Linked DNA regions of Homo sapiens: regions 2 and 3 are each linked to region 1. Evidence: fine-mapped expression QTL. A gene starts in region 1. Each other region holds a variant in brackets. All regions are shown on one strand. Distances are from middle to middle.

Region 1 (10,628 bases):
TTCCAGTTGATTTGCTGCATTGCGCAAAAGTTTCAGAAATCATCAGGCAGCAAATCTCATGCTCATTTAAAGGTCCTCATTTCTCTTCTCAAACCTGCAAAACGCTTTAAATATTAGAAACTGATGTCATCTTACCAGCACCTGCTAGTTTTCTGTAACATTGAGCTTATAAAATCAAATCTCTGCATCACAGCAAATGCAAAAGTGCTTTCTTCGTTTTTCTCATTTTCACTGAATTTTAAGTTCACAGAATGGGATTAATCATAGTAACATCACACTCTCATCCATTCACACACTTATTACCTGCTTTTGTTTAATTATTATAATGCTGCAAGCACCTGTGAATTCACCACCCAAAACAAGACAGGATCTAGACTAAGAAACCACACTCAACCATACTACTCCCCCAACCCATTCATGTAATTTCCCCGGAATCCTCTTCTCATTATTTCCTTGCTTTCCTCCTTTTATGTTAATTTTATTTACAGTTTTAGTTAATCTATTCCTTAAAAAGTGTGTATTCTTTATTTTCGCTATATTAAGCATTTAATATACAATAGTTTGTTCATTAATTCTCCCCACCGCAACTACTGAAATGTAATAAGTACATTAATAAGACTGCCAAGACCCAAACTTACCCTAATTAACGTTGACATTATTACTTAGACAACATAACACATTTATTTCATTAGGTCTGCTGCCAGGTAACAAAAAGCTGTACTTTGTAACAACTGGATATACCATAAGAAGCCAGGATCAAAAGTAAATACAAATTGCTGGTTTTTATAACTTTAAAATATTTGCTATTTCCTTCCTTTTTGTGGCAACACTTCCCTTTGAGCAACCCACGTTTCATATATGCTACATTTTTTCTTAGGAAACATAACAAACATGGTTCTGCCAGAAGGAAGAATGGTGAGTTTTCAAGATTCCACCCAAGCTGGAAAGTATTTTTTTAAAACATGTGCAACTGGCAGGAAAAAGAACATGGAAGAGTCTTCTCAGAAGCACCCCACCTACTTATCTTTCAAGTGCATCTCAGAAGCCTTTAGTGACTATTGCCCCCACATAAAACTAACCCCCCCCAACTGGTTTCCTCAAGCATACTCAGATCACAGCAACCTTGGCAAGTTATGCTGCCTATTGTTTCACACAGCGGTTTCTTCCTGCAGTGTAAGCCCCCTAAAGGCAGGGGTGTTTCTTATGTTCAGCTTTGTATCTCTAGCTCAGCACCATGCTTGAACATTGTTAAGTGGCTCTATTAATATTTTTTAAATGTGTTAGTGAATGGATGAAAAATGTTAGTGCACCTATTTAAATCACATTATTATGAAACAGTGAGATCTGCAGATCTGCTTTTTAAGCACATAACTTATGATAAGTAGGATAAAATTTAAATTGCAAACCATAATTAAGGAGAAAAAAACTACCACCACCACACAACCAATAACGAGTCAAGGTCTGAGTTCTGAGCACCTAAAGAGGCAGGCTTGTTAGCAAGAAATATTTCTATCACTAAACAGATATTCATGCATCATAAAACAAAGCATGCCTCTTTGAAGCCTAAAGAATATGGCAAGACCGGGCCCAGTGGCTCACGCCTGTAATCCCAGCACTTTGGGAGGCCGAGGCAGGAGGATCACTTGAGATCAGGAGTTCGAGACCAGCCTGGCCAACATGGTGAAACCCCGTCCCTACTGAAAATACAAAAATTGGCCGAGCATGGTTGCGAGCGCCTGTAATTCCAGCTACTCAGGAGGTTGAGGCCAGAGAACCATTTGAACCTGGGAAGTGGAGGTTGCAGTGAGCCGACTTACACCGCTGCACTCCAGCCTGGACTATAGAGTGAGACTCTGTCTCAGGAGAAAAAAATATATGTATATAAATATATATATAAAAATATATAAATATATATAAATATATAAATATTTATATATTTATATACATATATATGGCAAATATACCCAGAAAGGAACAGGAGGGGTGGTGCACTTTGGTGTCCGCAAAAAATACAGCTTAAAAAGCATCTACCTCAAGTATAAGATCTACCATGACTTTCTAAAGAATTAAAAAAAAATTTTTCCCATACCTCCATCTGACGCCCTTGTCAGTTTAATCTTTCCATTCAATCCCACCCTCTGGCTGTTACCAAAATGCCATAGGCTAGTATTGCAAACACAGTCCACTACAGTCACCTGTAATTTAGGCGAATAACAGAACTTCCTTCACTATTGACTATTATGAAAGGTTTGAGAGATGACTAGCCTGGGATCATCTGTTCCCTGCTGGGAGGAGGTCTGAAAAATTCATAGGCAGGGGAGAATGGGAAGGTAAGTTAAAACAAACCAGGTAAAAAGAAATCCACTTTAAATAAAGCTGCATTTGGAAGTGTACAACAATTCTCTCAAGAGCCTCCAGAAAGGCTGCCTTTGGTTCCGCAGAGCTCCACAACCGCACAACCTGCTCTGTTATAAACTGGACAGCACGCAGCACCTTGCTTAACTAACTCTAAAAATAAAGCCCTCTCGTTTAGCTCACTAAACTGTTACCCCATATTCCCTAAAAGCTGTCATTACGATCAAAATGTCTGCAGCCTTTACAACTAAAAATGTGGAAACTTGTGTTGCATCCTTTTAAAAACTCCATCTGCTGCGGGGAGCCAGTGCACATCTACCCATCTATTTGAGTATATGCGAATCTTGCCCTTATCTAGAATATCCTATTTCCCATCCATATGCCTGGCTCTAGCAAAATAAGGACCCTCAATGGCGCTTCTTTACTGCTTCTCAAGAAACCTCCATGTTCTGACCTGACTACTCCTGGAAACACAGCAGCCCCTCCTCAAACCTTTCTTTCTGCCTAACCTGCAGCTTCCAGAACGCACTACGGGGCTTCGCTTCTGCTACTTTCGCACTTACTTCCTCCGCCGGCAGCCTTTTTCCCACCTCTCACATCTAACAACGTACCTTCAAGACTCAACATAAGCATGACCTCCTCTCTCAAGAGAGGTCCTTCCAGACCCCACTTGCGTTTCTCAAATCAACCCGGGCCTGGGTTTTCACGCCTGCTTTCCCAGAAACCAAACTCCTGCAAGCAGGGGCAGAACCTCATTCCACCTGCATTCTCCGATCATTACACATTCTCGGGGCAAGAGGCGAAGCTCAAAGACTGCCTGGGGTCGGACGTGAGCGCTGAAACACCGCTCAAACTGCACGAGCCGAGGCGACGCCGGGGTTAGGGCTGCATTCCTGTCCCGGGCAGCTCCGGAGTCTGAGAAACGCCAACGTCTGCACTCCCAGTTCTGAGACCCCGGGAGGAACCGGCTCCGAGCCCCAGAGAGGGGCAACCGTGCAGGGCCAGGGGGGACACGCTACGGGCTACTCGGTTCTGGTGACCAGACAATTTCGTCAGGATGCGGTGCACGAGACGGAGAAGAAACGCTCTTCAGCACCAAACAGCCCGAGGCAGACATGAGGAGGAGGAGGAGGAAGGGAAGAGGGAGAAGGTCAGGGCCAGGGTCACCAGAGGCGGCGGCGGGCGGAGGGTACCGGGCCGCAGCCGCGTGGAGAGACCAGCGCCCGCCGCGGGGACTGAGACCCTCGGAGGCTCCGGCTGCGCTGGCCCGGCCTCCGCCCCTCGCGACGGGCCTAAAGCCGCGGGCTTGCGTCTAGCGCCTCCCGGGAAGGCGCGCCCGCCTCAGGTCCCGCCAGGCCACCCACCCGGGGCCGCCGGGGCGCCACTTACCCGGCCCGCCCGGCCGACTCTGCCCATGAGCCGCGCCGGCGGCAGAGCGGAGCCGGGCGGCACTCCGCGGAAACCCGCCAGCGGCAGGAGGCCTCGGCGGCGCCCACCCTTCGCTGAGTCCTCAGGGCGCTCGGCGGCGCGGGGTCAGGGAGCGCGGGCTGCCGGGAGAGCGCGCCCGCGCCTGCGCCCCGCCTGCGCCTGCGCCTGCTTCGGCCTCTGCGCCTGCGCCGAGGGCGCCTTGCCGCACTGCCCCCTGCCCGCGGGAGGACCGCACTGCACGCTCCCCTCCGCCGGCGTCTTCTTACCATCAAGAGGTGTCGCCCTGGCGCACATTTTCGAAATTCCACAAGGCTTGGGGAGCGCGGCAGCGCCCCCAGATGGTGAGGAGGAGAAGTGGTCCGAGGCCGGGCTTTCTGATAGGGGAGGTGGGGGAAGTCCCTCCAGGCCCCTCGATCTCATTCATTCAAAGCCACTCCTATATAAGCAAAAAGTTGAAAATAAGTCTGCATAGGCCAGATGCTGCAAAAGGATGGCAAGGAGCACGAGGTTAAGCGTAAGATTATGGAAACAGATGCCGCGATTAGGGGTACAGAAAAGAATGTCAATGCTATAAAGCCTCGGTCTTTAAAAACGACGTCGCTGACAGAAGCAGGGAGGGAAAGGGAAAGTGGGACTTCGGGTAAATATGATTTTTACATCTGTAATTAATTGGGTGTCAAATAGAGTTCAAGCCGATAAATCAAATAGTAGAGATTTAAGCAGACGTCTTAGTCCGAAGGAGTATACCAAGAAAGTTACTATAATCCATTAAAATCCAGTCATTAAGAAAACGGGAAAAGGGGGAAAAAAGAAATACAGTGGAGAGACAAAAGACAATCTAAAGAAATAGAGGATTAAGGACGTCATGGGATGGTATGATTCTGAGGGTAACCCAGAACAAAACTACAAAGCTTTCAAATAATCCACACATACATGCACCCACACATACATGCATGCACACACACACACACACACACAAAACCACAGCAAAAAAAATATATATATAGGGAAATATTTTAAAAAGTTACAAAACAGAAAGCGTAACCAAACTATATGACAGAACAAGACCAAATGTCTCACAAGAAGAAATATAGACCTAAGCTTACCTACTAAAAAACTACAATCTCAGATAGGAGCACAAACCATCATGCAACTCAGTGTTGTATACAAGAAAGTGCTAACGTTATTCTGAGTTTGAAAATACAAGATTGGAAAAGATATACCAGGAATATGCAAAAAAATTAAAAAAATCAGGAATCACAAACCGCTTACTACAAAGTTGATTTCAGGGCAAAAAGCATTAAGTAAGATTAAGAAGGACATTTTATAATCTTGAGGAGCACAATTCACAATCAAGAAAAAAATAGGAAAAATAGGAAAATCTTTGCACCAAATCACATAATCTCATTATTCATAGCAAACACTGTAGGAGTGAGTGAATAGACAGAAATAATTGGCACACTCCTTGCCAGACGAAGAGTACAAAAAGTAAATGGGGATTGAGAAGACCTAAAAATACAATTCCTATGATAGATCTAATATATCAAACACTGTCCCCTAAATAGACATTACATCTTTTCCAGTGTCTAAGGAATATTCACAACAATTAGTCATATTTTAAACCACAGAGAAAAATCTTAACATAGTCCAATAAGTAGAATCATATCGGTAATATTATCTGCAGCAATTCAATAAAAGTAGAAATTAATGAAAAAACAGAAAATAAAACATGCCTACCCCTTGAAAATTTTTAAATGCTTAAATAACACTTGGACTAAAAAGGAAAACAAAATCAAAATAACATAATATCTAGAAAAGTATGAAAATGACATACTCATGGGATTTAGCTCAGAGAGTACTAAGAGGAAAATTCATGGTTTTAAGTTTTTGTATCAATTAAAAACTTGGAAAAAGCTAAATGAATTAAGCACTTGTGCAAGAAACTGGAAATAAAATAAAAATGTGAGAAGCAGAAGGACGTACTTGGTCAATAAAAGAAGCAGAAAGTAATAGCGTGTAAACAGAAAAAGGAAGAAGGGCAAAGATAGAAGGTGTCTAGACTGGGTCTCTCCCCACCCCGTGATCAAAGCACCGGTGGGGGTGCAAAAGCCCTGATTAGGAGGTCCAGAGCTGCAGGACTTCCTCCAGGTTGAACCTGCTGTCTACCTGTACTCCCTAATCTGCTTGGCGTCTCCACTCTGCAGTCTGAGACCACTCCTTCCTCCCTTTTTGGTTGAAAATTTGTGCCTTTGTTCCCAAATCATTCCATCATACATACACAAGTAACTTTTTGGTTTACAGACCATAGATGCAATCACATCCATTGTTTAGGAATTTTCTAGTTTAACTTCCAGGAGGAAAACTGCCTTACTTCATTTCCTAGTACGTGAGCAGTCTCATGCTTGCCTCCATTTCCTGTCAATAGTAACAAATATCATCTTTATTTTATGCACCGAGAATCCAAAGCTTAACCCAATGGGGGAACAGAACCCAGGCCATGCAACTATCAGAAAGCGCACACAAAACGGTGGAGCTTTAGAAGAGGGACAAGACAGACGCGCTGGAGCGCCCCCTCGGGGCTGCAGAGCAAACATCGGTAGTGACTCCTGCGTAAACAAGTCGTGTGATCTGCTCCAGCTGTGCTCAGCGCCTGGCAGGAGGCTGGCAGGCAGCAGATGGTAGAATTCATCGGAAACTGGGAATTAGCAGGGCAGATGTTCCAGGAAGAAAGAAGATAAGGGCGGTGTTTGGGCTGGCAGGAAAGGCTGGGTGAAATGCTACAGTATGCAGCATGGATGGAACCGGGGGACCCCGAAACAGGAAAAGAAAGGGGTGTGGGCCCTGGAGGGAAGACAAGCTAGTTAAGACAATTTGATCAGATTATAATTTGATCAAAAACAAGTATTCCCAAGGATTCTGTGTGTAGGGATGCTTTCGGTGCACCGTGGAGAATGATTTTTGTCTCCTTTTTTGTATCTTTTTTTTTTTTTTTTTTTTTGAGACGGAGTCTTGCTCTTGTCACCCAGGCTGGAGTGCAATGGAGTAATCTCAGCTCACTGCAACCTCCGCCTCCCGGGTTCAAGCGATTCTCCTGCCTCAGCTTCCTAAGTAGCTGGGATTACAGGTGCCCGCCACCATGCCCGGCTACTTTTTGTATTTTTAGTAGAGACGGGGTTTCACCATGTTGGCCAGGCTGGTCTCGAACTCCTGACCTCCGGTGATCCGCCCACCTCGGCCTCCCAAAGTGCTGGGATTACAGGCATGTATATCTCTAAGCAGCTTCGGCCATTTCAGAAATCTTTCCTTCCTTCCTTCCTTCCTTCCTTCCTTCTTTCCTTCTTTCCTTCTTTCCTTCTTTCCTTCTTTCCTTCTTTCCTTCTTTCCTTCTTTCTTTCTTTCTTTCTTTCTTTCTTTCTTTCTTTCTTTCTTTCTTTTTCTTTCGATGGAGTCTCTCTCTTGTTGCCCAGGCTGGAGTGCGATGGTATGATCTGGGCTCACTGCAACCTCCACCTCCTGGGTTCGAGCAATTCTCCTGCCTCAACCTCCTGAGTAGGTGGGATTACAGACGCCTGCCACCACGCCCTGCTAATTTTTGTAGTTTTGGTAGAGATGATATTTCACCATGTTGGCCAGGCTGGTCTCAAACTCCTGACCTCAAGTGATCCACCCGCCTTGGCCTCCCAAAGTGCTGGGATTACAGGTGTGAGCCACCATGCCCGGCCCATCTCACAGATTTTTTAAAGTTTTTTCACTTTTTTTGTCTTTCTAAATCATTCTCTACAGTTATTCCTGCTCTGTAAGGTTTCTAATAGTAAAAATATAGGAACAAACTAGCGAACAATAACAACTTAGGGAAATTCAATTATGTTGAGAGACAAATAATTTACATGGAAGGATCCCATTTTTGTTTTAAAAATTTATAAATATATACAAAGTATCTATAAGGTATTTGCCAATATGGCTGGCTCCAGATAGGGATTATCAGGATTCTTTATTTAAATTTTTTTGCTTGTTTGCCTTTTTTATCTCTGAGTAATATGCTTGCATTGCTTTTGTAATAAAAATAATGAAAGAAGGCTGGGCGCGGTGGCTCACGTTTATAATCCCAGCACTTTGGGAGGCCAAGGTGGGTGGATCACTTGAGGCCAGGAGTTCCACACCGGCCTGGCCAACATGGTGAAACTCCGTCTCTACTAAAAATACAAAAATTAGCCGGGCATGGTGGTGGGCGCTTATAATCCCAGCTACTCAGGAGGCTGAGGAAGGAGATTCGCTCAGACCTGGGAGGCAGAGGTTGCAGTAAGCTGAGATCTCACCACTGTACTCCAGCCTGGGCTACAGAGTGAGACTGTCTCAAAAAAGAGAAAAATAAAAATAAAAATATAATGAAGGAGATCATCAATTTTTAAAGTACATAGAATTTTCTGAAATTTTTAAAGTTTTAATTCATCTTCCACCTAATTGGTGTCTGTTCTGCTTGTTTGAAAATATTTTCATACATTTTTAAATTGCATTGATTAGTTGAAAACTAATCTTTTCAATAAGAAATTTACTTTTTTAAAAACATAACTTTTGTGTGCAATTTATGGCTTTCATATGCATATTTTTTATTTTGATATAGTTTTGAGACAGGGTCTCACTCTGTCACCCAGGCTGGAGTGCAGTGGCATAATCACTGCTCACTGCAGCCCCGAAATCCCAGGCTCAAGCAATCCTCCCATCTCAGCTTCCCAAGTAGTTGGGACTACAGGCATGTGCCACCATCCCCAGCTAGTTTTTTTGTATTTTTTGTAGAGACGGGGTTTTGCCGTATTGCCTAGGCTGTTCTTGAACTCCTGAGCCCAAGTCATCCACCCACGTCAGCCTCCCAAAGTGCTGAGGTTACAGGCATAAGCCTGCACCTGGGCTCGTGTGGATATTTTTTAAGTGCCAAGCTTACATATGCACACAACCTAAAATGGTCAATAAAATGATAAACTGTTTTTATCCTTTCCCAGCTGGGAGGTTCCCACTCTTCAGCCAGTGAGGCCAAGAGCTTCATCTGTGAGTGATGCCTCCTTGGGGCACTGTTATCCTTTCCGTTGTGCCCTTTAGTGCTATCCCCAGAGAACAGGGGCAGAACAGCAAACCTTGCTCCAACGCTTTGAACAGGAGTACAGCTTTGAGTGGCAACCTTAATGTGGTCCCCAACGTGTGATCAGGTTATCAAAGCCAGATCATTGGCTTACGTGGCATGATCGGGAAATGAGTTTATCTGTGATCTGAGGGTTTCGAGGGATTAGTAACCCTTTCAAGTTACATCCTCCCCCTCCGTGGAGCAAAAGTGTTGCAAAGAGCAGTGACAACAGCTCAGCACAGAGGAAAAACATTCCTAGGAGAGTCGGGGAGAACTACTGCCAACCGTGTGCCAGGGGTTTTAGTGTAAATTATCTCACGCATTCCCAGTGACTCAACAAGACCGGTGTTGTTATGCACATTTTTCAGAACAGGAAACTGATCCTCAGAGAGGTTAGGGGATTTGCTGAAGTCGGACAACCAGTGAGTGACTGAACTCTGATGAGGACCCAGGGTTGCCTGACTGAGGTTAGTGTGCTTTTCAGTATCTTAAGCTGCCTCATAAGGGGAATATGATTTAAATAATGAGCAGGACAGCGATGCTCCCACGAGGCGTATCTCTGGCACTGTACTGTTTAGTCCCCCCAATCCCATTGGAAGTCTGCCATTCTTCCCACTCTGACAATAATGTCGTTTAACAAGCACTTCCTATGCACCAGGCTCTGGGAAGAGTGATTTACATATTTTAGCCAATGTAATCCTCCTATAGGCTTTACATGGTAGCTGTGATCATCTCCATTTGGCAGCTTGAAGTTATTTCTCCAAGGTCATAAATACCTGGACCCAGAGTTCCCAGCTTCCAAAGCCGTACTCTGAAATTCCACGCCTTGCTCCCCCAGGAAAACATGGGCAGAGCTCCAGCTCACTGTGACACACCATCTCTGTACAGGGAAACAGATTTGCAAGTCTAAGATAGCATTTTTATTTCTAACAACATTCGGGTAAGACTTGGGAATTTGGGATGATTCCTTAAAATGTTTGAATTCCATCTTGGAATTTCTGAGTCTAGTTTATTAGAAACTCATCCTAGATCTGTATCATAGTTTATTGATGAAGAATTCTATTTGGCTTTGACTGTTACAACCCAGGCTGAGCAAGCGCTTGAGTTTTAAAAGGGAGAAGTTGAGTTGGCCCTGGTCTTTGTCATCTTAGATATCACCTGAAGCCACAGATGGATAAGAAACAGAAGTGTAGACTTGGTCTTTAACCAGAATACGCGTCTGACTCTAGACTACAGGAAATGGCTGCCATATGCAGGCAAAGAAAAACAGGACAGGATAACGCTCCCTGCGCTGAGCACCTCAGGTACCAGAATAGCACAGCCCTGCACAGTAAGAGGCTTACATAGATGAGCAAAGCCAACATTCCCTTGCTTGGACCAATAGAAATGGGATGTGCTCCTGGCTGCTTTTGCAATGCAGGAGAAGTAGAAGAGGCAGTGATCTGGGGGATGAGGAATCACACTTTTGCGGGAAGCAGACTGTGACTGAGGTAAGTAAAAGAAAGAAACTGTAAGCATTTTTGCAGCTGCTGATGGAGTGAAATAAAGGCTAAAAGAACAGATTCTACACACATCCTCCCTGTGTCTAAGAATTTCTGCTACTCTGGACCAGGACCTCAGGATATTCCCTACCCACACCCCTATAAATGGCTTGCTTAGGAAGGAACTGACTCAGAAATTTCCACAAAAATGAAAAAAGGTACCCAACACAGATCAACTCAATGTTAAA
Region 2 (10,628 bases), 32 kb before region 1:
TGGAAATGTTATTTCAGTCTCTGGAAACAAGTTCTGGGTGTGCCCGAAGGATTGGCATTAGCGGGAGGGGACTCACTTCTCGGAGCGAGAGGCTGTGTGGGAGAGCAGTGGGAAGCCTGAGAGGACATGTGAGCCGGAGGGATTATTTTTGTCATAAAACATGCTTTGTCCAAAGGCTTGGAGGAAAAAAGCACTGGCTTCATTTCTGCACAGTCATTGTTGTTAAAATAGCACAATTGGTGCCATGCAGAAGAATGTGAAGATTCTGTATCATCCTCCTTGCAAGGGAGAAGGTGTTTGTGAGCTTTACATGCCAATGTCCACCATGAAGGCCAGAGGGCATCGGAGACTTTTTTTTTTTTTTTTGAGACAGAGTTTGACTCTGTCACCCAGGCTAGAGTGCAGCGGCACAATCTCGGCTCACTGCAGCCTCTGCCTCCTGGGTTCAAGTGATTCTCCTGTCTCAGCCTCCCAAATAGCTGGGCTTACAGGCACACGCCACCATGCCAGGATAATTTTTGTGTTTTTAGTAGAGAGAGTGTTTCACCCTGTTGGCCAGGCTGGTCTCGAACTCCTGACCTCAAGTGATCCAATATTGTTGAGCTGGATCAGCAGGTGTTAGGCATCAGAACTGCCCTTGAAGGCTGGTATGGTGGCTCACACCTGTAATCCCTTGCACTTTGGGAGGCCAAGGGTGGAGGGTCGCTTGAGCCCAGGAATTCAAGCCTGCGCGACAAGAGCAAAACTCTGTCTCAAAAAAAAAAAAGAAAAAAGAAAAATGCAAAAACCAAAACAACAACAAGAAAAAAAAACAAGAACTGAATGTGTTTTCCTTTGGAGAATGGGACTGGTGGAGGCAGAGTGCTGTTCTGATTTATGAGTATTTGAAGACTTAGTTGATTTTATAATTATGTACAGATATTATTTTGACAAAAACTAAAATTAAATAGGAATGCCAACTGTAAACTTACTTTTCAATCCAAATTTTGGTAATAATTATGCAAAATTCAGTTCAGAATGACTTAATCCAGTTGCACCCTCATAAAATACCTGTGTATACAGCGGTCATCTGGGAGAGTTTATTGAGTCACCATCAGCTTACTTCTGAAGAGATTCAGCGTCAATTATTGTTACTTAGTTCCTTATTCTGAACCTAAGCACAGTACTGCAAGTAACTGCAAAGCATGTCTGCCAAATTATCAGACTTTTATTCCATTTATTCCTTCTGCTTTTTTCCAAGAGAAATGAGTAATAAAGTTCCCTTAGCAACCCCCTTCTTGTCAAGCCACTTCCTCCCCTCATGTGAAACCTGGTTTCAGCAAGCCAGGGACCCACAGGGGTTTGTCACGAACCCGTCCATGGATAGACACTGTCTTAGCTTATCGGAAACCTTATGTTTTCACTGCTTAGACTTGAGCCTTAAGTTGTGGGAGAAAAATGCAACAGGAAGAGAAGAGGATAATAGAGATTTAATAGGAGGTATTTTAATATTGTGTGAGAGTACAGAGGAGGAAAAAAGGGTGGTTACTAAATGAAAAGACCCAGCTGTTATCAAATCTGCAACTTGCTGATACCCTTAGACCATATTTAAAAATGCATTGACCAGGTGCAGTGGCTCAGTGCCTGTAATCCCCACACTTTGGGAGGTCAAGGCAGGAGGATTGCTTGAGTCCAGGAGTTCGAGACAAGGCTAGGCAACATGGTGAAACCCCGTCTCTACAAAAAATACAAAAATTAGCTGGGCATGGTGGGATGTGCCTGTAGTCCCAGCTACTTTGGAGGCTGAGGTGGGAGGATTGCTTGAGCCCAGGAGTTTGAGGTTACAGTGAACTACGAATTTAATAATCTTGACATTTCATATAAATGACATTTCAAAATCTTTACAATATCTTGCTATAAATAAAGTAACGTGTATGGCTCCATCATTTACATAAATCTAGACCCTCACGGCTCTGGTCAGGACTCAACCACCTCTATACCTTAGTTCCTTAGATCAGGGTTGCCAATAAAAGAGAAAAGAGAGAGACCAACCCAGAAATACACTGACTAGTAAAAGTCCCAGAAAGAGAAATACAGTGAAGGAAGGAGGGTCAGTTATCAAAGAACTATCATGAGAAACATTTCCAGAATTGAAGGATATGAATTTCTAGAAAGAGATCATCCCCTGGCCAGGCACGGTGGCTCATGCCTGTAATCCCAGCACTTTGGGAGGCCGAGGTGGGCGGTTCACTTGAGGTCAGAAGTTCAAGACCAGCCTAGCTAACATAGTGAAACCCTGTCTTTACTAAAAATACAAAAATTTGCCAGGCATGATGTGCATGCCAGTAATCCCAGCTACTCGGGAGGCCGAGGCAGGAGAATCGCTTGAACCTGGGAGGTGGAGGTTGCAGTGAGCCGAGATCACACCACTGCACTCCAGCCTGAGCAACAGAGCGAGGTTCTGTCTCCAAAAAAAAAAAAGAGGGTTCATCCCCAATGCCCACCATGCTGAACGAGAAGAGGTCCACGGCATAGTCGTGAAACTTCCAGACAGTGGTTCCAGAACCTTCCAGAGAGAAGAAAAACAGGTCAGCAAGGAGGACACTGACTTTACCAACCGCAAAACAAGAAAATGAGAATGTAGCAATGCCCTCAAAATTCTGAGGGAAAATGGGTTTTAATCAAGAAGTCCACGTTTAGTCAAACTAGCAATTCAGCATGACAGAATTATGATTTTTGTGGGTGGTGGTGAGTGCCTGTGGTCCCAGCTACTCTAGAGGCTGAGGTGGGAGGATCGCTTCAGCTCCTGAGTTCAAGGTTGCAGTGAACTATGACCGCGCCACTGCACTCCAGCCTGGGCAACGGAGACCCTGTCTCAAAAGAAAAATAGAAAAAGAAAAATGCAGAATTAAGATTTTTCAGACATGCATGGCCTAACAAACTGTATCTCTCCTGTATCTTTTCTTAGGAAACTACTTCAAGATAAGCTCCACCAAAAATAGAGAGGAAATCAAGAAGATTAAGACGCAGGATCCAGCGCAACGCTCCAGCACAGGAGAGACCAAAAGAACGTTTGACAATCCACTGACTTCCTAGAAAACAGAAGAGTGGGCTGGGCATGGTGGCTCACGCCTGTAATCCCAGCACTCTGGGAGGCTGAGGTGGGTGGATTACCTGAGATCAGGAATTCGGGACCAGCCTGGAGAAACCCCGTCTCTAAAAATACAAAAATTAGCCGAACGTGATGGCGCACGCCTTGTAGTCCCAGCTACTCAAGAGACTGAGGCAGGAGAATGGCGTGAACCCGGGAAGCAGAGGTTGTAGTCAGCCAAGATCGCGCCACTGCACTCCAGCGTGGGAGACAGAGCGAGAGTCCGTCTCAAAAAAAAGAAAAAAAAAAAAAAAGAAACAAAGTTTAGCTTTCCCATGCCCCCACCCCCCGCACCGTTGCCCGCCGCCCCCCCCCCCCCCCCCCGCCCCATTCATTCTTTCAAGCTGGGCCCAGGGCAACATTAAAAAACAAACCTGTAATCAGTATTTATATGATATGGCATTTTGTGTATTCATCTCAGCTGAGTCAGTTGTATATCATGGTTAATTACCATTATTTTACAACTTTGGAAAGCCCCTCATCTTCCCGCTCCCGGATGGACCACGAGTTCTCCAGGCCCCTGTATGGCTATGGACCAAGACTTCTTTCATGATGACCTTGGGAACTGCTTTCGTCTCTCCTACTTTGGGTTCCCTATTTCCCCGAGTCAATGCCATCTTTTTCTGGGTTTACTCCTTCAGTTGTAGCGAGTTAAAGACTGAATGGAGATGAGGGAGGTGGAAAGTAAGTACAGCCTCTTCTTCCGAGACATCTGCTTAGGAAGAGAGGGAAGGAGCCTCATGAGGATGTATTTAGAAGTATGGAGGCAGAGACCAGCAGCAGGCCAGCTAAAAAGTTAAAAGTAGTTCCCGCGGGGGAGGTGTGCAGCTGGGGACTGTTGTTTCTCAATTATGGGGCTGTGGTGCCAATAAACCTCGCATGAGTAGCAACTCAGCAGGCCCAGGATACGTGTTGGAAGGGGAATGAGGGAAGGGGCAATTCTCCAGGCAGCAGGGAGAGCGTGAGCAGAAGTCACTGCCAACACTCCCACCACAGGAACCTAAGGGAAGGCGCGGCGCAGCGAGGGCAGTGAGAACGCCCCGGCTTCCAAGCAGGAGTCTAGACGCGGTAAGGATTGTGTATACGGGAGTGGCTTGAACAGCTGAGGCATTGCCTTGGAAGATGAGAGGGGTGCACGGTTAAAGCAGGGAGACCAGCGGGAGCCCATGGGCCTACTCCCAGGAGATAAGGGGTCAGAAATGAAGGAGCTCCACTGTATTACCATGAAAGATGGAAAAGAAACAGAACCGGCGGTCCTCAACTACAGACTGGATCTAGATAGAAGGGAAAGTGAGGAATCGAGGGTGATTCTTGGGTTTCTGAGTTAGATGACTGAATAGATGATGCTTTCCCCCAAATCAGAGAGTTTAGCAGGAGAGCTTGAAAGGGAAGAAGTGAGTTAAAGTTCGGGACATGTGTTTGAGGTGCAAAGGGGACAGCCAGGGGATGATGTCTAATAGGCACTTGGATACAGATCTGAAGTTTGGTAAGGAAGACTGGCTGAGATTCAAATACAGGTGAGTCACAGAAGCAGCCCAAGGCCAAGGTAAGGAGATAAAAACACTTGGGAAGAGGTAAAGCGTGAGCGATACTGGCAGGGCCGCGGTCTCCGTCCTCGGGAAGGGAGTGGTTACCAGCGTCAAGTGCCATAAAACGTCAGGAGACTCACCGCACGGCTCTTAGCTGAACTATCAAGGAGGCCTGGTGGAAGCAGAGGTCTAATTTGTAGTCGACGCAGTCCTCATTCTGCAAGTGTGGGCTGAGTGGAAGAGGCAGTAAGAAGCAAGGAGGTGGAGGCGGGATGTTGGGATTCTCTGAGAAGAATGGGGACACCAGGGAGTTGGGGAGTGGCTAAAAATTCAAGGTTTGACCTATTTCCATTAAAGATGGGAGAGATTTGAGGAAATTTATATGCCAGTACAGAGTTTGAAAACGGGAGAGACAAAAGGAAAGTCTTACCATGTAATCCAGCAGTCTCACTCCTAAATATGTACCCCGCTAATGTGAAAACGTGTCCATGAAACACCTGCACATGGATGCTTATAGCTTTACTCATAGCTGCCAAGAACTAGAAGTAATCAATATGGCCGTCAGTAGGTGAATGGATAAACATATGGTGGTACATCCGCACAGTGGAATAAAGAACGAGCTATCAAGCCACAACAAGAGATGCATGAATCTGACAGGCACGTTGCCAAGCAAAAGCAGCCAGTCTGAAAAAAGCTGCATGGTATGTGCTTTCCAGTTACATGACATTCTGGCAAAGGCAAAACTATAGACAGTCAACACATCAGTAGTTGCCAGGAATGCAGGTGTGGAGTAGGGTGGAAATTTCACTACATAGATGAAGCACAGGGGATTTCTTAGGGCTTTAAAGCCATTCTGTGTGATACTGTAAAGATGAATACATTTTATTTTTTTATTTTTTTGCGACAGAGTCCCTCTCTGTCACCCAGGCTGGAGTGCAGCGGCACAATCTTGGCTCACTACAACCTCCGCCTCCTGGGTTCAAGCAATTCTCTGCCTCAGCCTCCTGAGTAGCTGGGATTACAGGCATGCATGCGCCACCGCACCTGGCTAATTTTTTTTTAGTAGAGACAGAGTTTTGCCATGTTTGCCAGGCTGGTCTCAAACTCCTGACCTCAGGTGATCTGCCTGCCTCGGCTTCCCAAAGTGCCGGGATTACAGGCGTGAGCCACCGCGCCCGGCCACGACTAAATCTTAATTTATGTACATTAAAAAAAAAAAAACCAGGCCAGTGGCTCACATCTATAATCCCAGCATATTGGGAGGCCGAGGCAAGCCATAACACCAGCCTATAGTCCAAGGAACAGCAGCAGCTTGGCTAAATGCCTCACCACCAAGTAACGAGGTTCACCAGTTCTTCAGCCCAGGGAAACCGGGTCCTTACCAGTCCCATCCTACCTCCTCCATCTTTCATCTTTCAGGATTTGTCATGTGCAATCCCAGCTATCAATCTGTTATCAGTCAGGGGTCTTAGGTGCAGATTTAAAAATTCACTCTAGCTTGTTTAAGCAGAAAGAAATCTACCAAAAAAAAAAAAAAAAAAGGATTGGGTGCGGTGGCTCATGCCTATAATCCCAGCACTTTGGCAAAAAGATAATTTGAGCCCAGGAGTTCAAGACCAGCCTGGCCACCATGGCGCAACGCTTTTTCCACTAAAAATAAAAAAATTAGCCAGGCATAGTGGCACATGCCTGTAATCCAAGCTTCTTGGGAGGCTGAGGCACAAGAATTGTTTGAACCTGGGAGGTGGAGGTTGCAGTGAACTGAGATTGTACCACTGCACTTCAGCCTAGGCAAGAGTGAGACTCTTGTCTCAAGAAGAAAAAAAAAAAGGAGGCCGGGCGCGGTGGCTCACGCCTGTAATCCCAGCACTTTGGGAGGCCAAGGCGGGTGGATCACGAGGTCAGGAGATCGAGACCATCCTGGCTAACACCATGAAACCCCGTCTCTACTAAAAATACAAAAAATTAGCCGGGTGTGGCGGTGGGCGCCTGTAGTCCCAGCTACTTGGGAGGCTGAGGCAGGAGAATGGCATGAACCCGGGAGGCAGAGCTTGCAGTGAGCCGAGATCGCGCCACTGCACTCCAGCCTCGGCAACAGAGTGAGACTCCGTCTCAGAAAAAAAAAAAAAAAAAAAAAAAAAAAGGAAAAGGCCAGGGACAAGCCGCAGGTTTTATGTAAAGCAAAAATCCCAAACCCCTCCATAGACTGCTCTGCCAGATACCACACACCAGCAGAGGTGACAAGGTCTCTGCCACTGCTGCCCCCAGTGCCACACAACACTGTGCAGAGGAACCCTTGCCAAAGTCAGACGACAGACTCTTCACACAGCTTCTCTCCCACACTGCGGTGCCGGTCTGATCAGAGATCCCAAGCGCACAACCCTACTCAACCTGCAAGACAGGCTGGGAAAGCAAGTTTCTAGTCTCTTGCGGGGAGGAGGGAAACAAGGAAGTTCCCCACACAGAAAAAGGCGTTTCAGGCTGGGCTCGGTGGCTCACACCTGTAATCCCAGCACTTGGGGAGGCTGAGGCGGATCACGGGTCAGGAGATCAAGACCATCCTGGCTAACACGGAGAAACCCCGTCTCTATTAAAAATACAAAAAATTAGCCGGGCGTGGTGGCGGGCGCCTGTAGTCCCAGCTACTTGGGAGGCTGAGGCAGAAGAATGGCGTGAACCCAGAAGGCGGAGGTTGCAGTGAGCCCAGATCATGCCACTGCACTCCAGCCTGGGCGACAGAGCAAGACTCCGTCTCAAAAAAAAAAGAAAAAAAAA[G/AG]AAAAAGGGGTTTCAAAAACTCACAGATGGGCCACCAAGAATGACAAACGTCTATTACACGGAAACTTGCCAGTTACATTGTAGCTTACATAATTTTTAATTTTTATTGAAATTTAAAATTTTTATATTAGCTTAAATGTTAATATTGAAAATTAATTTCAAATTTCTCAAGTACTAACTTGCAGGAGATTTAGAAATTATTCGACTATCAGAAATTCATTATAAATAAAGCACTAACTGATTAACACAGTTATTTTAAAAATAAAAGACTGGGGAGAAAGGCACACACCAAGCTGTCCTCATGCGAACGGAAATCAAGTAGTATGAGTTGGTTGCAACTCTCTGGTTGCTGACCATGAGAATGTTAGGAAAAGCCACCCATTTAGGTGCAAACAATGTTTTACAAAGCATAACAACAATAAATGCATGCATGAAAGGTGGGTTGGAACCATTAGTTTCTAAAATTAAACAAGCACACTCCGGTACTTGTAAGCACAAACATGGTTTCCACTTGAGGAATGGTATGCCTAATTCCATAGATAACTGAAGTTCCAGGGCTGCTTTTGATTCTGTCTTCCACAATGTTCAATTATGTAATTTACCTCACATTCCTTAACCCCAACTTACTTTACAGAACAGGTGCACTTTTATCATAAAACTCAATTTTATTCAATAAAATAATACCACAAAAGATAAAATGTTATTCTTTTATTTATGTTAAATAAAAACATGAGAAAATCCTTTTTTAAAAAGGGTCAGAATATTCCTTATGTCTCCAAACCAAGTCCATGGATGCAAAGAAATGCTGAGTTCTTGATACACTTTCATGTCATAATAACCAAAGGAGACAGCACGGGCTCGAGTCTTTCAGCTGCCGCTTAGGAAAGTCACATGCAGTATTTGGGAAAGCAAGGAACAGAACACAGGCATGAGTATTTTCTGGAAATACCTCCTGCCCTGGCAATGAACCTCAGTACCAAATATTTTTGTTTTCTTTTTTGTGGTCCTGATAAATTTTTAAGCCACACATCCTACTGAACTTCAATGATACAATTTCTCACAATTCCAGAATTCTATTGGCAGTACAGTTTACTTGGCCAACGTGGATAATCTTATAAATTTTAAAATTACATACAATAGAACACTATTGCAAATTTTGCCAGTAGAAACATGACCCCAAGGAACTGCCATTTCCAAAACATAACTGGGCACACATTTACAATGCACCTGCTAGGTTTTGAATTCATTTGTCATTTCTGATCTACCCTTAAGACTATGCTTGAATCTCTGAAAACAAATGCTAGATTCATGATTTCTATACCCACATACTCCATAAATCCATCACAAACCCTACAGTCTGATTTAGCCTACGGCAAATGATTCATCCAATAGGCCATGGTATGTTCACAATTCTTCAATCTTATTCAGGTTGTAAAGACGTTTTTCTACGACTGGAGTCACTAAGAATTTCTCTGTTAGAGAAAGCATCATTTTCACCTTTGGCACACTGCCAAGATGATACTTTACTACAGAATTTATGAAACTACAATTTAGTAACTTGCAGGCTTTATTAAAAGAAAAAGAAAAACAAAGAATAATTTAATATAACCCCATGTCCCAAAACTTTCTAGTTTTTTTTTTTTTTTTTTTTTTAGTGCAAGAAATGCTGCATCATTGAAGCACTTGAGAATTACCATGAAATCTAACAAAAAATGTCATCAACTCAGGAGTAATAATAAAAAAGAGAAACAACCAGAGAGGCACACAGATTGTTGTTTTTTTAAAAGGATTTTTATACTATATTAAAAAACCACAAAATAAAAAAGGGATCAATCAACATATATCTTAGAAGTCCTTCCAAGAGTCTTGGTATGCAACAGCCATGGAGGCTGTGACCTTTTTCCTTCTTTTCTCAGCCTGCAGTTCATTTAAGGATCACCGGAGATGACTCGTGCTCTAGTTCTTAAAATCAAACTTGTTCTGCCAAATCCAAGACCCTGAATTTGTCCAAATTGTAGAAACATGCTTTTACCACCCGTCCACCAAAATACCTCCCATTCAAGTCAACAACCGCTGAAAGGCAAACAAAAGACAGTTAATACAGGTATCCTATAAGATAAAGGTTTAACTTTAATTAAACAGTAACTTTACTTGTAAAGATTAAGGCTGTAAATTCAACTTTTTTATTCTTTAATATTTAGCTGTACCACTAACCTTTAATTGCTGATTCAACTCTCTCAAATTCTAAAAATATCCGTACTGCTTCATCATCAGGGGCACCAGGAATCTGGAAGAAAATGAGAGCGTGATGAGTAAAGGCATTTGAGATTGCATTGAATGAGTTTTCTCTTTTAAATGATTTCTCAGAGTGGATATTCTAATTATCATCATATACAGTCAAGTAGTTGTCAAATACCAAGGAAATAAGTATAATTTGTTCATCATCAAAAACGTACTGAATGCCTGTTTTTATGACAGGCATTGTTAGGTGCCAGGAACACAGGGCTAGGCAGTCTCTGACCTCATAAAGGCCCTGTGCCAGCTGATGACGTAAACAAATAATTATGTGGTCAACAAACAGCAACAGGATAAAGAAACAGAGGAAGCAGAGCTTTCAGATTAAAAAGGCTGGTGCCCTAGTGGCCTTTCACATCAGGTCTCATTTTGACTAGCTCTGTCTAGCTTTCCTAGCCCTCTGTAATTCCACCCACCTAAGCACTTCTGCTAATCCCCAACAGGCCCATCCATTCCATTTTGGTAGTCCTGATCTTCACTGTCTCCTACGAGCCATTATCCCAATCAGAATACCCTTCCCTGCAAATCCCACCTGTTCGTTTCAAAGCGCAGCCCATATCTGCTATTGCTCACAAGGCAGTCTATTTTTTCACTGATCTAATCCTTTTCTCAACTCCTGAACTTAGTCAATACTACCTAGTCTAGTAACTGAATATCTTTCAGTTATTTTATGTGTTTCTTCAACTGAACACACCACTGAGAGTACAGAGCATGCTTCCTGTAATCCAAGTGCTCTCCGCACAGTGCAGTGCATGTGAGAGGCACTAAATACTCACCAAATGACTGAAACCAAAGGCATGTCTAAGGAACTAAACTACTGAGCACGCTAGAATCAAGGTCTTCAGTCATCATACTGATCCTCAATCATGAAGCATTCCTGTTTCTTCATCAAATAAAAC
Region 3 (10,628 bases), 21 kb before region 1:
CTTAGCAAAGAGACTTACACATTAGTGAAAAATCTAAAATCAGCCTTACGTGGGATCTGCCCAAAGTATTATTTGCAAAAGTATCATTTTCAGTTTTAACTTTTAGGGGGAGCAGGGTAGGCTGGGGTGACACACACAAATCTAGGCAGGCAGAGAGCTTGCTTTCCTCAGCTTCTTACCCTTAGTAAGACCACTTTAGTAGGACACTTAAGTATTTCAGTCAGCGGATTTGAATCTGACTTCTTGGATGCATCTGTATCAAAACATACCATTAGATGTGTTACAGAACTGAGCAGCATATCATTAGATGTGTTACAGAACTGAGTCCTACTTACAATAATTAATTTAATTTCAATAGCGATCCCCACCATTTATGTCCTAGGCATCTACACAATTGGTCTCTGAGCGAAAACACAGCCTTATCTGCAATAAAAGCCTCTGCTTTGCTTTGGCATGTTTTTACAATAGCATCTGGATGTTTTGAGCCTCCACCATTACTTGCAATTTTTGCTCATCTCACTTCCCAAAGGGCTGACAGGGCATGTGAGTGATAATTCCTATAGGTGAGTTGACTTGGAGCAAACGTTCAAGGTCACGGGCCCAGGGGAATATGCAGTTACTAATCCAGCCACCGGCTGCCTTACTTCAGATAACCTCACAAGTCGGGACAACTGTTGGTTTCTGGCACTCACCTGTCAGGCTCGTGATGTATCCTAAGCTGTGCATGAACGGGGCTGCCAGAAAAGTTTTCTTCTTTCTTTAGCAAAGGAAGTTCAGCTAGGCTGACTCAAACTTAATTCCCTGATTAAAATGCTAACATATGTTTGTCTCTTTCCTGAATTCCCTCAACACAGAACAGACTGTAAAAATTAAATGAAAATAAAACACCAACTAGGCATCATTTACCAAGAGACTGCAACATAACATCAGATCTCGCAAAGCAAACAATCTGTAAGAGAATCAGAAATCACATCTATACTGAAAGGGCAAAAGGGAAAAGTAGAGACGACCTCTGAGATGGAGATAGCAGGTATATTCACTGCCACACTATATGGCTCTGTCCTTCATGCTCTAAACACATAACCAAGATTTCTTCCTGAGGACTACTCATTTTCTGCCCAAGTCTCTCACCATCTTTTCCTCCACAAGCCTTCATCTCTCTACGTCTGTTCTGAAAAAATAAAGATGAGCCTCAGGATTCCTGGTTTCACAAAACGGAAGTGGCAGTGCATCATATGAACAGGACGGCCTGTGTTCTAGTGATGGCAGGGCCAGCCCTCTCCCTCTGGCCACACGCCTCATTGTCCCCCTGCTGACACATGAGGATCAAGACTGGCCATGTCTGATATGGATGGGGCCAGTCCTTTCCCTCTAGTCACACGCTTCCCTGGGGACACACCTTTCTCTGTGGCGTCGCCCACGATGATCTTGCCGCCACGCTTGCTGGTCTTCTCCACTGACAAGGCAGTGCTCAGGCCCTGCTCATGCTTCCCCAGACCCTGGCCCTCCCGGAAGCCGTACTTCTGCATGATCTTGTGCGCCACCGTGCCCCTGGCAGGAGAAGAAGGGAAAGGACTCTTAGCCTTGACATCGTCAACTGGAGATAGGTTGCATTTTTCCATCACAACAACCTCCTTCTGGAGAGAGTGCATGCTCCACAGGGGCTTCAACAAAGTCACTCATTAACTAGGAGTGGGCTATTAGATGGAAGCTGTGGGGATGTGCAGCATGAAAGAAATAGAAAAAGCTATGAATAAAATCCAGAACATCCTGTTGTCTTGGAGGGGAAATGTCAGTTTCTCTGGTGGAGTCTCCTCAGTGCCCTGCTAGGAAACACAAGACCTTTTGTGTGCTCCGGACCTGCACTGCCACATAGCTTATGACCACAGTTTATTAAAAAGTGGCTATCAAAAAGTAAGTATGAAGTTTCGTACAATGAAGATGATCCCATTTTCCTAAATAGCACAGGAGAGTTTCCAATGACAGACTATACAAATGAAAGAACCCTTAGAGATCACCTATTTAACAAATGAGAAATAAACGGAGGCCAAGATTAGCTGACTAGCTTAAGGGGTGGACTTAGAAGTAATGCAAGACGCCATATTAGAAATTATTTGTACAGGCTGGGTGCAGTTGATCACACTTATAATCCCAGCACTTTGGGAAGCCGAGGCGGGTGGATCACCTGAGGTCAGGAGTTCAAGACCAGCCTGGCCAACATGGTGAAACCTCATCTCTACTAAAAATGTAAAAATTAGCTGGGCATGATGGTGTGCACCTGTAGTCCCAGCTACTTGGCAGGCTGAGGCAGGAGAACTGCTTGAACCTGGGAGGCAGAGGTTGCAGTGAGGCGAGATCGCACCACTGCACTCCAGCCTGGGCGACAGAGCGAGACTCCATCTCAGAAAACAAATAAATTATTTGTACAGCTGTTAATGGTAGAGCTGAAACTGGACCCCACAACTCTCAGTCACTGCTTTCTGTAACAACCAAATGGCTCTCACACTGCGCTCTGAGGCGCAGCATGGGTCTGAAGGGCACCCCAACCCCATGACCACTGCTGCTTAGGGCTTAAGCCACAAAATCCCGCTTCAACTGGAACTGCACCTACATTACTTCTTGTATTTAATTCCCTTAACATTTTCATTTGAACAAGCTATTCTAGGGCTAAAAAGACCAGAAACTGCTGAATGGTACCATCTTGCATCTTTCCTAAGCACAAGTTAAAGA[T/C]GTAATTCCTGGTTAAAAGCAAATTCGCTAAAAAGTCAGTTTTTATCATAAACAGGGAAAACAAAACAAAACAAAACAAAACCAGCTTCATGTCTGTCCAACCCTCCAGTACACAAAGCTTCCTGCAGCCACGGCCATGTCCTATGTCTGCACCATCCAACATCGTCACCACTTGCATGTGGTCACTGAGCACTTGAAAGGAGACTAGTGAGTTTCAACCCCACTCACTGTCTCACCGGCTGCATTTCTGCTACAGGCAGCAGCCAGCAGATGCAACACAGCACAGAACAAAGCCTTCATGTGATACTGCTTCATGGGACAGCCGTCTCACAGGATCAAAGTCAACAACACAGAATATCCTCTTAACCAAAATGTTTGCCAAGCCCAGCACAGTTTAAAAAAATCCCCAAGCCCCACCTGAGCGTCAGCCTTACAGTCAAATTTTATATGCTGGCAAACATGTCAACTTGTAGTTAGAATGACCCCGAGTTTTTTAGACCAAAGGTTTAGAACCATGACCTGAAAGCAAATGGCCCACTTTATCAGGAAAAAAAAGGTATCACCTGCCCTTTGGAGACAGTAAGTCAGCTCTGATTCATATGAGCTATTTTATTTGCAAACGTTATGAAGGCAAATGTAAACATTAATCAGGTTCTGTGCCTGTCTAGGAAAATAATGTTCAACATCAAAATGAGTCAAAACTTCTACTGGGAGGTTGCTGTTTTGAACAAGCCCCATCATTACACTGGAACACGCTCCACACGATTGAGGCAGGTACCGTGTGACCTGCACACACCAAGGGTCCTGAATGTCCTCAGTTTCAAACAAGCTGCATCTATTGAAAGGGCTATCAACGCTTCACACTGTCTCTCAAGTCCTTAGATAAGAACATTAAATCATTACCCCATGTTAGCGAGGAAGGAGTTGCTAGGTCCGGTTGGAGATCTCGGTCTGTCTTGTTCCTCGTACACTGGGGGAGGAATGGCTGCTTTGGAAGACTGTGATCGAGGTCTTGAGTCCTCTTCATAAGGAAAATCTCGGGGTACTATTGGAGAAAAATAAAGTAGGCTCACCAAAATACTATAGAAAACACTCTGAAACCTCACTTGTATCAATTATTTATCTTGAACAAATTTAACCTACTTTTTGGTTTACCACAAGGAGAGAAAAACACCAAATCAATTTTACAGCCTTTATACGACTTTTTTTAAAACCACAGAGGGAGGACGCTACTTTCCTGATTCTAACTTTCCTTTTGCTATTTCTATCTCCTCAAACGTCTTTTTTATATCTTACTGAAATGTTATTCACCCTTTAAAATCTTCTTGAATGAATATTCTTGCCGGAAAGATGTTCTGTATGTTCTAAGGAGATACAATCTGGCCATCTTTTGACTCCTGCAGTAACTTGGGTGCACCTGTCTAGACCCCGACCTCACTATCTCATCAGCTCATGGCCCACAAAGGTGTCCGAGGTTAGGGGCTACGCACTGGAGCGGTGGCTTCAACCCTAGTTAGATGAAAGTCAGTAGGACGCTTTAAGACCATCCAGATGCCTGAGCCCCACTCCCAGAGACTAGTTTCAATTGGGGTTTATTGTTTGTCTGTTGTTTTCACATAATAGGTATTTCATAATATCTTAGAAATTATCTTCTTTAAAAGATAAAGAATTCAACAAGTTTTAAAAAGTACTATAAATGAGAATATCTGCTTGGGATAGTTTAAGTATGGTCCAATCCAGAGAATGGGAAAATGACCTAGATGATATTCAGAAGTCCAGTCCCAACCCCCAAATTCTAGAGCAGATCACTGCGAGAAGGAACAGTGGGTGAGGGTGTTTTGGCAACGCAATGACACGCAAACCCACCTGCAGTGAAATGGAACGGGAAGAAAAAATCTAATCAAGGAAGGCATTGCCACCTTGTGGAGGATCATGAATATAACAGCCTCTAAACCTCTGAGTTAAAAAACTGTAACGATCTGCTGTTTTAACTCCAAATGAATCTAACAACAAATAAGAAATGTTAATGAAATCAAAGTGAATTGCATAAAAAAGAGATGGATCCCACTGCATGAAATCCAAGCCTCAGAGCCTGGCGTAGAAAGGTCTCTCTCTGCAGGAGGGCGCTGCATTCTGAGATCCAGGTGCGGCCTCAGGTGACAGAGCCAGGCAGGCTTGCAGGCCGTTTCCCTCTACGCTCAGGAAACCTGGGGGCCCAAGCTGAGATCCCCCATGGTTGGGTTAAAGACCTGTATCAGAATAAAAGAGGAAGAAACAGATCTACTTACACTCTTTGTCTTTCTCTACCAGAGAAGTGGGTGGGGCAATGGCAGCTCCGCCCATACCTGCAAAACCACAAATCCAAGCATTAAAGGAGGTTTCCGATGCCAGACTCCCAAACGACTATGACACACCATATATCTATCACCCACCCCCCTAAGAAAAAACTAAAAAAGGAGGACCTGCTACTTCAGATGACCTCCTGCTACATATGAACAAACCTCTGATGCTAGGATTTAAAATGTAGAAAAGTGGCAACACTCCCTCAGATATGCAAAATTGTTCCTTCATAAAAGGAACTCAAGAGCCCCACAATGTAGTCTGCAAATGAATTTTAAGGCAAAACAATACAACCAAGAGAACCAGCAGTTACTTAAAAAGAGAGTAATGTAACTATTTACCGAGAGCAATACCCATTAGGCCCTTTATACACATGGCCTCGTTCAGGCTTCACAGACCTCTGAAGTAGATATTACTGCATCCAGTTTACAAATAAGAGAATGATCAGAGGGGAGTGAATCAACAGAAAGGGAGTAAACCCAGCTCCCTGCGTTGCCATATCTCCCCCACCACACAGCACGCTCCTTTTCCAGTGTGCAAACCACTGGAACTAAACACATATTTGAAAGCGTGGGTCCTTCTGGCTCCTGAAGAAACTGCTGCGTGTTGTCACTATTCCTGGTGTATTTCCTGGACAACGAATGGTGAACACAAACAAACCAAAAGAGATAAGACAGATCTTTTTATCTGGTATCCGACAACTGGAAGGAGAACATCAGTGGAGACCACAAGGAATTTTGCATTAGGCATAAGTCCTAACATATATGGATTACGTATACATAATATTACATAATACATATGTATTATGGCTTAATCAACAATGAAATAAAAACAAAATGTAAAACTTTAAAAATTGATTACAAAGTCATGCTGCATCAGCACAAAATGTTTGACAAAAGAAATTATTCTGGCTGGACGCAGTGGTTCACTCCTGTAATCCCAGCACTTTGAGAGGCTGAGGCAGGCAAATCACTTGAGGCTAGGAGTTTGAGACCAGCCTGATCAACATGGTGAAACCCCATCTCTACTAAAAATGCAAAAATCAGCTGGGCATGGTGGCACACACCTGTAATCCCAGCTACTTGGGAGGCTGAGGCAGAAGAATCATTTGAAACTAGGAGATGGAGGTTGCAGTGAGCCGAGATGGCGCCACTGCACTCCAGCCTGGGCAACAGAGCAAGAGTGTCTCCAAAAAAAAAAAAAAAAAAAAAGAGGCCGGGTGCAGTGGCTCATACCTGTAATCCCAGGACTTTGGGAGGCTGAGGTGGGTGGATCACTTGACGTCAGGAGTTTGAGACCAGCCTGGCAAACATGGTGAAACCCTGTCTCTACTAAAAATGTAAAAATTAGATGGGCGTGGTAGCGCACACCTGTAATCCCAGCTACTCTGGAGGCCGAGGCAAGAGAATTGCTAGAACCCAGGAGGTTGCAGGTTGTGGTGAGCCGAGATTGCACCACTGCACTCCTGCCTGGGCAACAGAGTGATTCCATCTCAAAAATAAATAAATTCATTCTTCTAAAGAATTATTCTAGAAATTATTCTAAAGCCAGTGTCCATGCATTTTGATTAACAGGACTGGATGATATAAAATCCTCAAGGAGAAATATGAACCTGAGTAAAACCTTCTTCTATTTCCTTTGAAATACTTCCATGATCATTTTACTAACCTTGTCACTAGGACCTAGAGTGATTACTGATTCTGAAAAGCAGATTAGCTCTAATAAGTTCAGTTAAAAAAATTCAGGGTGATTACTGGAAATCTGCTACTAATCACATTAAAATAAGAACATCAATCTGTCAACAACTATACATATGATGGGCATGCCACTACCTCCCTATCATGAGCTACAAGGTCAAACAAAGTCTTCTCATTCAAAGCTATCTAGTTCCTGCTGGTGTTTAAGAAAAAAAAACAAATGTCCTTAGTATGGAAAGCATGCCTCCTTATTAAAAAGGGCAGTCAATTTATAAGCTGGAAAAATGAGACCTACAAATATTCAACCTATATACTGAATTCCAAAAGAAGTTAATAAAAACCAAACATTTGGGGATTAACTAAGATAGCGGATATGAAATGTGTCACAATGCCCAAAACAGACACACTCAATGTTAACTATGCTTCCCCCCTAAGAGAAACAACAGAGTGGATTCAGCATCGGCCAACTGGACTGTGCTGCAGGTAAAGACAGTGCAGGAATAGATTTTAAGCTAGTCCCAAAGTATCCAATAAATAAATGTTAGAAAGTGGTTGTGAAGCTCAAAGGAAAATACATATGAAAACCCAATATAAATTAAAACTGTGACGCAAATGTGTATTGCTGGGATTCCAGAAAGAAAATTACCCAAATCAATGTCAAATGAACTATTTATCAAACTGAAAAGAAAAAGCACATAGTGGAATTGCACTTCCAGTATTTATATATGTTTAAGACATATTTGTTCATGCCTTACTTCTTTTCCTCCTCTCTCGCTCATAATCTTCATCTTCATCAGAATCTGGATCTGGTCTCCTTGCAAACCCACTTGCTTCATGTCTGTCTTTACGCCTTCTGTGATAACAAAGGAAATAAATGTTCATCACAGATGAACCAATTTAGAGACCTGAACCTGGGATGACTTCCTCTTGACCAGAAGATATCCAAATCCTGTCACAATCAACTATGAAGTTGCAGGGGTAGAGGGGGTAGGAAGCATAACTGGTAAAAGACTAAAGTAGATAAAAGTATGAAAAGTGAGAAAAATTCAAGAGATAAATTGAACCAATAAGTATACGAGAGCAACCAGCATGAAAAAAAAGGTTCCTTGACATTGACCTCTTCCAATGTTAAAGCCTATCAACATAGTAATAGTTCAATCATTTCAATAGTCTATAACACTTTCACTCATGAAATGATTCAATAAATGGGAAACAGTATATTAATATTTAATACATGTTAACTATTTGATAATACTAAATATTTTTAAAAAGAACTACAAATACATCCTACTACTCGTACTTTGCAAAAACATAAATAAAAGCTGCATATGAATTTTTAAAAATTCCACCTGGCTCAAAAATAGTAAAGTTAAGAAGAATATTTCAAGTACTTTAAATAGCTGTGATTTTACAAGTTGAGAATCCCTTATTCCAAATGCCTGGGACCAGAAGTGTTTCAAATTTTGGAATATTTGCATTACAATTACCAGTTCAGCATCCCTAAGCCAAAATCCCCCAATGCACATTTCCTTTGAGCGGCATGTTGGCATTCAAAAGATTTTGGAGCATTTCAGATTTCGGATTTTTGAATAAGGGATAGTCAACCTATAGCAGAGTATCAGCATAGAAAAAAATTTTCAACATCAGGTTTATAAGTTATTTTTCTAACAACTCACTCAAAATATACACTTTAGGTCTTCAGTCTACAGGTGAAGTTTGCTGTGATTCTGAGATGTAACAGGTACAAATCGTAAAACAGTTTGATTCCTTGTAGTGACTGCTCAGATCACCCATGACAATTAACTTCAGCCTTACAGACAGCAGCGACGCTCATTCGTTAACATTTTAATGAACATTTCAACTGTAAAATATCCCCAAATCCAAAGGAAGCCTTACTTTTCCCTTTCTTCTATTTCCTTTTGTCTTTCCAGCTCCCGCTGTCTCTGTCGTTCCTCTCTTTGGCGCTTCACTACTTTCTCATAATCATTAGGAAACATAGGGTCATATTCGTCAGCTAAGGGAATCAGAACTTCCCCTGCAGAAAACCCACTGGGAACAGGATCCTGAGGAAGGTAAAAACAGCAGTAAGAATCCTCTTTATATCTTACCAGTTTACTCACAGGATTCAGGTCAAAGCGTATGGGAGATAAAAGGACTCTGAACATCATCTAGCCCCTTCCTCTGTTTTAAAGACAAAGAAAACAAATACCAGACAAGGCCACGTGCCTAGTCAGGTGGTAGCAGAAACAGGACACAAAATTTCACCTCTTAGATTAGTACTATTTCTATAATACTCTATGGCATTTTTCCTGGAATTCCTAAATAAGCCACCACCAGCTAAAATATAAGTTACTAGTACTTTGAGTCAAAAAATTAGAATACTTATAGTAAAGCACTGAATACTTGTTTTTATAGATCTCTATGACAACTTAAAAAATAAAACAACCATGAACACCACAATCATTCTTGCAGTCATCATTTTAACAGAATAACTTCAGATTCTGATTACATGGAGATAAGAATATATGGAGATCTTAGAAAGCATCTTCTTGGTCTTTCTAATCCTCTGAACACATGTCCCTTCCCAGGTAGGCTGCATTTCAGGCACTGAGTTTGACACAAGGGGATGTAATGTCCCTTCCAGCATCATAATTTTTTTTAAGGTTCACTAAAATCAGGTTTAGATAACACTTCGTGTTTTCTCGTCTATACATTCAGAAACTTGGTCTACTCTTTGAAAGAAAAGAGGTAGCCATGACAAAGAAATTAGCAAAACGAGAGGCAGAGCACAGCCAGTATACTAGGAAATACATGAGCAGACACAGAACTTTACCCTAGGCTGGCAGCCTCGGTCTACACGTGGTGCTGGAAGCCCTGACCCCACTTTCCTAAACCTTCCCACACTTTCTCCTGTTAGTGTTCTTAGCATAATTCTTCGTTATTATCTGTAACAATAAGATGCCTTCTCTGGTTTTGAAAGACACCTCAAACAAGCACAGGTTAGGATTAGTGTCCCCATTTTTTTTAAAACACACATGCAAAACAACAAGGATTCATGTCCTTGAGCGCCCAGTCTGTACCTCTTACAGGAGGTACAATGTCCAACTGTATCAAAGGCAAGAAGGTCGTTTGTAAACGTGTTTCCTGCTTGAACACAGAACTGACAAAATCAAGACAGCTTACACGCCATATTAACAGACCTAAATCGAACAGTTCCTGTGTTTCATGGTTCGGTGTGACATTTTGCACTATAAAACAAACACTTCACCATTTCCTTACGACGAAATATCAGGAAATGCTATGATCCAATGAATAAGAGCAATTAGGAAAATAACTATAATCACCTCCCAGGCCCTACCCACTGGAAAATGTATTTAATGTAGGGCTCCTAAAGGTTAGTTATACATTTGTATTCATTTTATAAAAGACATTTAAAAAATACAAAAGCACATGAAGATTTCTTTTCAGTTATTATTTAGAGAGAAAATGACAACCAGCCACTCAATTTATCTAACACAATTATCACAACGTGTCTAAGAGAACAAACTGTCAATATGAAGGTTCATTCTCTGACACTTCAAAATTTCAAAGAAAAAAACTTTTACATATAAACCCTGCTATGCTTAACAATGAAATCAATCATCCTTTTCTAAATGCTGCAATGAATAAAGTGATTTGTTCAATTTAAAAAAATTAAAATGTTAATACCCTCAATGCTGAGGGGGGAGGATGGGGTAAAATTCACCCTCATATGCCTGAGGTGATACTGTGCACTGCTGGGAGTAAACTGGTGCCAGAACAGATTGGCCATAAAAATGGCTGATATCTTAATGCCACCTCAGAAAATCTAAGAAAATAACC

Evidence for each region. PIP is the estimated chance that this variant, and not a neighbour inherited with it, causes the effect.
Region 2: its variant is fine-mapped to the expression of RBM17 in whole blood (INTERVAL, PIP above 0.99).
Region 3: its variant is fine-mapped to the expression of RBM17 in whole blood (INTERVAL, PIP above 0.99).

The regions. Positions count from the first base shown.
Region 1 is chr10:6,082,310-6,092,937 of GRCh38, reverse strand. RBM17 (RNA binding motif protein 17) reads right to left here and starts at 3,904. Exons shown (of 12, transcript NM_032905.5): 1 at 3,745-3,904. RefSeq lists silencers at 3,173-3,232, 3,503-3,592, 3,603-4,042, enhancers at 2,408-3,246, 4,203-4,252 and a cis regulatory region at 8,777-9,277.
Region 2 is chr10:6,114,332-6,124,959 of GRCh38, reverse strand. It overlaps RBM17 (RNA binding motif protein 17), which reads right to left. Exons shown (of 12, transcript NM_032905.5): 11 at 9,649-9,721; 12 at 7,513-9,507. The coding sequence ends at 9,404. LOC101928080 (a long non-coding RNA gene) reads left to right here. Exons shown (of 3, transcript XR_930619.3): 3 at 2,948-3,376. Among named protein-coding and RNA genes, the nearest start is that of RBM17, 31 kb to the right of the region's middle. RefSeq lists a silencer at 8,868-9,068. The variant G/AG (reference allele first, on the strand shown) is at 7,435.
Region 3 is chr10:6,103,133-6,113,760 of GRCh38, reverse strand. RBM17 (RNA binding motif protein 17) reads right to left here. Exons shown (of 12, transcript NM_032905.5): 4 at 8,664-8,830; 5 at 7,523-7,620; 6 at 5,019-5,075; 7 at 3,634-3,775; 8 at 1,400-1,551; 9 at 180-253. Among named protein-coding and RNA genes, the nearest start is that of RBM17, 19 kb to the right of the region's middle. RefSeq lists an enhancer at 5,256-5,951. The variant T/C (reference allele first, on the strand shown) is at 2,731.